Linked DNA regions of Homo sapiens. The protein of the gene in region 1 purifies or fractionates together with the protein of each later gene. This does not show direct contact. Each region holds a gene or a part of one and is shown in the gene's direction. Other genes may lie near its edges. The genes, in order: H2AZ2 and HERC4.

Region 1 (4,034 bases):
ATTTTTCTTATATAACAACATAGTCAAAAATTATTAAAATATGAGGCATTCTGGTAGAAATAGAGAGCGTCTCAGTTCTTACTGGTAAACTTAAATCAGTCTCTTGTTGAATTACCTAATATAAGAGAGTGAATATGAATTAGTTCTTAGATTTTTATTTTTCCTGTTTCTGATACCTGCCAGGGTTTTACTGTTTTTCTTCCATATTATCTTGGGTGACACGCACTTAATCCACTTAGACGTGCAATTAGAGGAAGTATACAGGGGTAATTTTTAGCTTTAAAAAATTTTTAAGGAAAGGGTTAGCTACAAAGGGGATATGCCATTTCAAAGCTTACCATCTATTTTGAAAGAATAGCCCCTCAAACAGCCAATCTTGTAAACTGATTTCTTTTTTTAACAGTAAAGAAATAATCTGTTTAAATGGTAAAAGCAAAATATATGAGAGAAAATTAGTTTTCTTAAGTCAGACCTTTAGTATTTCCTCCCGAGAGGCAAATAACATTTCTAATTTATTGTGTCACCTACTAGAAATACATGTGTACACATATACTCTATAATACCCCATATTTACTTAAAAGCTCATTACATTGGCACATACTTTGCCTTTTTCATGCAGAAATAGGTTTTTTTAAAGCGTACAGTTCAGTGGCATTAAGTACATTTATAGTGTGCAACCATCACTGCCTTCTGCCTCTAGAACTTTTTCATCTTCCCAAGTGGAAACTCTACCCATTCAACAATAACTCGGCCAGGCGCAGTGGCTCACGCCTGTAATCCCAGTACTTTGGGAGGATGAGACAGGCAGATCACTTGAGGTCAGGAGTTCAAGACCAGCCTGGCCAACATGCAGAAACCTTGTTGGTACTAAAAATACAAAAATTAGCAGGGCATGGTGGCGCGCACCTATACTACCAGCTACTTAGGAGGCTGAGGCAGGAGAATCACTTGAACCCAGGAGGCAGCTACCCCTGGCAACCACAAATCTGCTTTCTGACCATGAACTTTACTATTTTAGGGACCTCATAAGTAGAATCATACAGTATTTGTCTTTTTTGTAACTGGCTTATTTTCCTTAGCATAATGTCCTCAAGGCCCATTCATGTTGTAGCTTGTGTCAGAATTTCCTTTTTAAAGCTGAATACTATTCCATTATATGTATATCATTTTGTTCATCCATCATTGGACACTCAAGATTGTTTCTACCTTTTGGCTATTCTGAATAATGCTTCTGTGAACGTGGGTATACATGTATTTGTTTGAATCCTTGCTTTCAATTTTTAGGTGTATACCTAGAAGTGGAATTGCTAGACTATATGACAATTCTGTGTTTAATTTTTTGAGGTTTTTTTTTTTTTTCTTGGAACATGCTTTATTTTTCTGAGAGCTAAGTTCTAAATATTTCTGTGGAAGTAATATATGTTACATTGACATTGATAAAAATTGTGAAATATTTCATGTATGCATAAAAGTTATATTGACTTGCAAGATTCTTTAATCTGGAAATTGATAAATATGTTTGTTTTTAAAAATCTCATATTTTTCAGCCTGGCACTGTGGCTTATGCCTGTAATCCCAGCACTTTGGGAGGCCTAGGCGGGCGGATCACTTGAGGTCAGGAGTTCAAGACCAGCTTGGCCAACATAGTGAAACCCACCTCTACTAAAAATACAAAAATTAGCCATGTGTGGTGGTGTGCGCCTGTAATCTCAGCTACTCAGGAGGCTGAGGCAGGAGAATCGCTTGAGCCCAGGAGGTGGAGTTTGCAGTGAGTCAAGGTCGCACCACTGCACTCCAGCCTGGGCAACAGAGCTAGACTCCATCTCAAGAAAAAAGAAAAATATTTTAAATAAGTGTTTAAGGTTTGATTTCTTTGATAGAAATTATAAAAGGTGATAGAATCCCATGTATATTTACAAATGAGGAAGGGGATCACCTACATATTGTTAACTACCTAAAGTAAAACTAGAAAAAATTCTGTTTCCAGAATATTTTTGAAGTAGTATTTTCAACTCTTTTCATTCAAAAAAATTTTTTTTTGCATTTAGGCTGGAGGCAAAGCTGGAAAGGACAGTGGGAAGGCCAAGGCTAAGGCAGTATCTCGCTCACAGAGAGCTGGGCTACAGGTAATGAATCCATGCTGTCATTACATTATTATTTTCTTTACTGTTGTAATTTATGACCTATGTTTCATCAATTACAAAAATCTACTTGTATTACTACAGACTTTTTTTTTTTTTTTTTTTTTTTTTTTTTTTTTTTTTTGAGACAGAGTCTCACTCTGTCGTCAGGCTGGAGTGCAGTGGTGCAATCTCGGCTCACTGCAACCTCTGCCTCCTGGATTCAAGCGATTCTCCTGCCTCAGGCTCCCACATAGCTGGGACTGCAGGCGTGCGCCACCATACCCAGCTAGTTTTTGTATTTTTAGTAGAGACGGGATTTCACCATGTTGGCCAAGATGGTCTCAATCTCTTGACCTCGTGATCTGCCTGCCTCAGCCTCCCAGAGGGCTGGAATTACAGGCATGAGCCACCGCGCCTGGCTGAGAAACCCTTTTAATCAGGAAGGCTAAGCTGTAAACTGTTATCCTCTTGGCAGTGGTAAGCCATTGAGAGTTTGAGCCAGAGGACAACATTATCCAGATGATACCGAAAGAAGGGGGATGGGAACTTAAACTGATATGCACATTCTGTATTTTAGGTCTCCATGTATATTCCCAATTAGAATTTATTTTAAGGCATACTTAATTTGAAGTAGAAAATGGAAGGCCAATGGAGGTTTTTGCAGTGGTTTAGGAATAAAGTAACATACTTGAATGGGAAGGAGTAGAAAGCATGTGTGTGCAGAAAATAGGTGAAGCAGTATAAGGTTGAGAGAAAGTCACAGGTTTCTCTAAGGCTTAGAACCTAAGGAACAGAGGAGTTTGTAGTAGGGGCAAGTTATGAGTAAATTTAAATGGAATCATTTTGAAGTTCACTAAAACATCCATGTGAAAATGTCCAGAAGTTGGAAACATGAGTTCAGCTTTCTAATAGAGGTGATAGAATTAGGAATTTGAGATCATTTATGTAAAATGGATAGTTTATGTTATGGATGAGTTTCCTAACCTAAGAGAATGAGAAAGGAGCACAGGGACGTTGGTGGACCCCTGAAAAACTTTAAGAAAAGGCTGAGGAGTAGTCAGACTTGGTATGAGAACTCTGAAGTCTAAGATGAAATGTTTTTGAGGGCCTACTGTATGCCAGACAACATACTGGTTACTAAGGATACAAAGGAAAAGAAGACATAAATCTTGCCCTTAAGAAGCTTTTGGTCACTTAGAGATGAAGTATAAATGCAAAAAAAAGATTGCTTGTTTTTATTAAGGAAGTAAAATGTCACTGCTGGCCTTCAAAGGTCAAGTTAGGGTTAGGAAAAATGGGTGACAAGGAAGTAAGGGTTTCAGGATTTGTTTTTTCAATTCAGTCTTTGGAAAGAGACTGTCTAGACTGTAACTGGAAGCAGTTTTCATAGATTGTGAAGTTTTCAGTAAAGTCTGTAGAAGGAAAGGAACCAGCGGAAAGGAAGTAATTGTAGCTGTTGAAATAATGGAGCAGTGAAGGGTTGAGGGAGGCCTGTAAGAAAGGCACAGACTGGCGGGGCACAGTGGCTCATGCCTGTAATCCCAGCACTTTGGGAGGCTAAGGTGGACAGATCACTCAAAACCCTGTCTCTACTAAAAATACAAAACAGCCAGGCGTCCTGGCGCGCCTATAATCCCACCTACTCAGGAGGCTGAGGCAGGAGAATCGCCTGAACCCGGGAGGCGGAGGTTGCAGTGAGCCAAGATGGCGCCACTGCACTCCAGCCTGGGTGACAGAGTGAGACTCTGTCTCAATAAAAAAAATAATAAAGGGCACAGACAAGTGGGATCAGGATACTTTGAAATGAGAAAAATACCCTCTTTTTCAGAAAGTAGAAAGAACCACAATGAGATAATAGTATTGATTTTTCTTAACTATCAGATCACCTCTTGAAACTGAAGAAAGAACATT
Region 2 (3,500 bases), on another chromosome or scaffold:
GAAATGTGTTCCTTCTGGTTTTATAATGGTCACTATCTTAACTTTTATACTTTGTGGAAGACTTGAGTATTATTTCTTTCTTGAATATTTTGTTAACTTGCCTAGTAGCACTTAAGATGTTATTTGTTTTTTGTTGGTATTTGGGATGATGGGTTGTATTTGAAAAGCTGTTTTGTTTCTCTAGCTTGTTTTCCAAAACTATAATTTTTCTGAAAATCCCAAAGGCATCCCAGATTAGGCTCACTGCCAATATAAAATGTTTAAAATTTTTTTAAATTAAAAAACTTTTTACATGAACATACACACTTAATTTTTAAAATACCATGTTTTAAAGCAGATAACATTGGATAAATGGATGAAAGTAATATTTAAGAAAGTCTAGAATAAACAGTAATACCTTCATCAAGTATTATTTTATCAGTCTTTAGCAATTTATGTAATTCTGATTCATCTAATTGGGTGTTAGAGGAGTGCTCTGTAGCATTAAACATTAGATTAATTATTCATTTTAATTCTTTTTTAAGAAAGGGTAAACAATTAAATTTCTGATTCTATGATTAAAAAAACTTTTTTAAATTTTTTAGTGAGATAGATGGAACGTTTTCTTCCTCTGGTTGCCTAAATGGAAGTTTTTTAGCTGTTAGGTAAGTGGCAATTCTTTAATATGCTGAAATTTTCAAATTTATTGTCTTAAATAGTATATCAAATTAAAAAATGAAATAATTTTAAATTTTTATTCTATTTTTTTTTTTCTTTTCTGTTTTTTAGCAATGATGATCACTATAGAACAGGTACCAGATTTTCAGGGGTTGATATGAATGCTGCTAGGCTTTTATTCCACAAACTTATACAACCTGATCATCCGCAGATATCTCAGCAGGTCTGTTTTTAAAGTATTATGTTTACAGTATTATCTGTTGATTTTGTTTTCTTTTGTTTTATACGTTTATAGCCTAATTTACTTTGCAGTTTCACAGACTCTTACGATGTGCTTTTAAAATAAGATTTTATTTTAAAGCATTTGTAATTTAGCTGTCAAAGATCTATAAATCTTTTCAGATGTTTGAAGCAGACCCTGAATTACTTAACATTACCACGTTGCTTAAGTTTGTGTATGGTTATAGAGGTAGAGAGTTTAAATTGAGACTTGTACACGTGATTTTTTAAATTCTCCAAGTAATGCTTAGGCATTAATTTTCATTGTGCTCCAAAGTATATTCATTGTAAGACATTGTCTTTCTTTTTTCTTCTTCACCATTTCATATTTGCTGTAGTGCAAAATTTTCCTTTTCTTTCTTTTCTTCCTGCCTTCCTTTTTTTTTTTTTTCTTTGAAAGTGTATTCATTTTAAATGAAGTAGGTTTTACTTTTTGTCAAAATATAGGTGGCAGCTAGTTTGGAAAAGAATCTTATTCCTAAACTGACTAGCTCCTTACCTGATGTTGAAGCATTGAGGTTTTATCTTACTCTACCAGAATGTCCCCTGATGAGTGATTCCAACAATTTCACAACAATAGCAATTCCCTTTGGTACAGCTCTTGTGAACCTAGAAAAGGCACCACTGAAAGTACTTGGTAAGAATTCTAATATTTTTTCTTTTGAAACCTTTTCTCTTTAAATGAAAATGCTTCATAAGTTCTTTTGCCATTTGCAGTTCTGCTGCCCTGCTTATTTGACACTGTCTTAGGCAAAAATGAACCTGTTTTTCCTTTTCTTGCTTTTGTCTAGTCTTTTGATTCTAGTTGTTGGAGTTGTTGAAAGAAAAACATGTTAGATATAGAAGTTCAATTAAACATAACAGCAGAGACAGTATTAGGAAAGTTAAAAACTGTCACCCGTATTCCTTTCCCTCATCGCCTTTAGTATAATCTTGCTATTAAAGAAGTAAAGGAGGAGGAACAATTAAAACTGAACAAACATGGGCTTTAAATCTTCTTGGAACCCTGATATAAGCCCTTTATCTTGTGTTTCCTTCACTTGCTAATTTCATGATATTTGATTTTATTTTTCTGCCTATAGACTAGATTTTATTGCTCATCTGATCTTGCACTTCTATCTCTTACTGTTCTGGTTTTTTGGCATAAAGTTTTCTCACTTTAATTTTTCTAATTGTCTAGATTTTATCTCTATTTCCTGGCCTTTATACTTTTTTTGCTACATTTAACCCAGTGCTTTTCTTTCTAATGGTATTTGTTAGATATGTGGAGCTGAGATATATAGAAGTAATAATGTCAGTACAAGAACTTTAAGGCTGAGGGTAAATGGAGGAAGCAACAAGCAAGGGGTAGAATATGGGAATCTGAGGGAAAAAGAGTCAAGCAGGGACTGAAAAGAGTATTGCTTTCCTGTTGTCAGAAGTTTTTGTATTCTTTCTGCCTGCTTCATAGGATTGAAGTGTTTGTACTTAGTAACTACAAATAGTGAATGTGGGGAAGGACCCATATGTTACACTTTACATTGTTCAGCTTCTGTATTTGATCTTCAGGAGTACCTTGCATTTTAAAGGTAGTGGTTCACAATATTTCAACCATATATTAAATTGAAAGATAAAAGTTAGAAAGATCCTTTAGTATTAGAGCAATACAATTTAAAGGATGTTTTGTTTAAAAATTGAAACTGTAATTTTCAAAACATTTTTTAAAAACTGGTTTTAATATTAGGTATAGTGGTGAGTTTTTTATATAACTTAGGAAACCAAGAATATAAATTCAACAAGACTTTCACACTTTATTTTTGCTTTTGAGAGCTTTTCGGACAATATTGTTTAACTTGGTCGGGGGGAGGTTTATAAACCTTACAAATGTTACATAAGATATTGTGTTATATGCATCTTTCTGGGGTTTTCTCAGGTTTAACAACTACTGTTTCAGAAAAAAAGTCAGTATGATTTTGAAAATTGTGATTTTTTAAAAAATTCATTTTATTTGCATGTTCACTTTTTAATAACAGAAAACTGGTGGTCAGTACTTGAACCTCCACTATTCCTCAAGATAGTAGAACTTTTTAAGGAAGTTGTGGTACATCTTTTGAAACTCTACAAGATCGGTATTCCCCCTTCTGAAAGAAGAATTTTCAACAGTTTTCTTCATACTGCATTAAAGGTTTTAGAAATACTACATAGGGTATGTCCAATCATTCCTTTATTTTCCTCTTTCCCCATTCCTATTAACAGATTGATACTGTTCATTTTAACATTAATCTATTAAAGATTTAGATTGGCAAAAACAATGCATATTATAGAAATTTGGAAAAGTTATCTATACTTTCTCTTAAAAGAAGTAATAAACCTGTCCTTTGGAGCTCTGGTCTTACCTGACTTTGTTAGGCATGTATAGATAACTTATCCATAGTTGGGCAGAACAATAACATACTAATGAGTTAGAATTCTCCTTATATTTCCTTATGAAGAATATAATTTGTTAGTTTGCATTATATGGTTTTTGTTAGCTGTAAGTGGTTATCTTGTGAAAGAGATTGGGTCCTAGTTGTAATTATGAACAT

The links.
Region 2: the proteins of H2AZ2 (region 1) and HERC4 fractionate together in Homo sapiens (co-fractionation; one large-scale study listed by BioGRID). This does not show direct contact.

Annotation. Positions count from the first base shown.
Region 1 is NC_000007.14:44,841,369-44,845,402, reverse strand, and holds part of H2AZ2 (histone H2A.V), read left to right. Parts: intron 1-2,048; coding exon 2,049-2,126; intron 2,127-4,034. UniProt on the Homo sapiens protein: Variant histone H2A which replaces conventional H2A in a subset of nucleosomes. Nucleosomes wrap and compact DNA into chromatin, limiting DNA accessibility to the cellular machineries which require DNA as a template.
Region 2 is NC_000010.11:67,988,284-67,991,783, reverse strand, and holds part of HERC4 (probable E3 ubiquitin-protein ligase HERC4), read left to right. Parts: intron 1-584; coding exon 585-644; intron 645-768; coding exon 769-880; intron 881-1,383; coding exon 1,384-1,573; intron 1,574-2,948; coding exon 2,949-3,121; intron 3,122-3,500. UniProt on the Homo sapiens protein: Probable E3 ubiquitin-protein ligase involved in either protein trafficking or in the distribution of cellular structures. Required for spermatozoon maturation and fertility, and for the removal of the cytoplasmic droplet of the spermatozoon.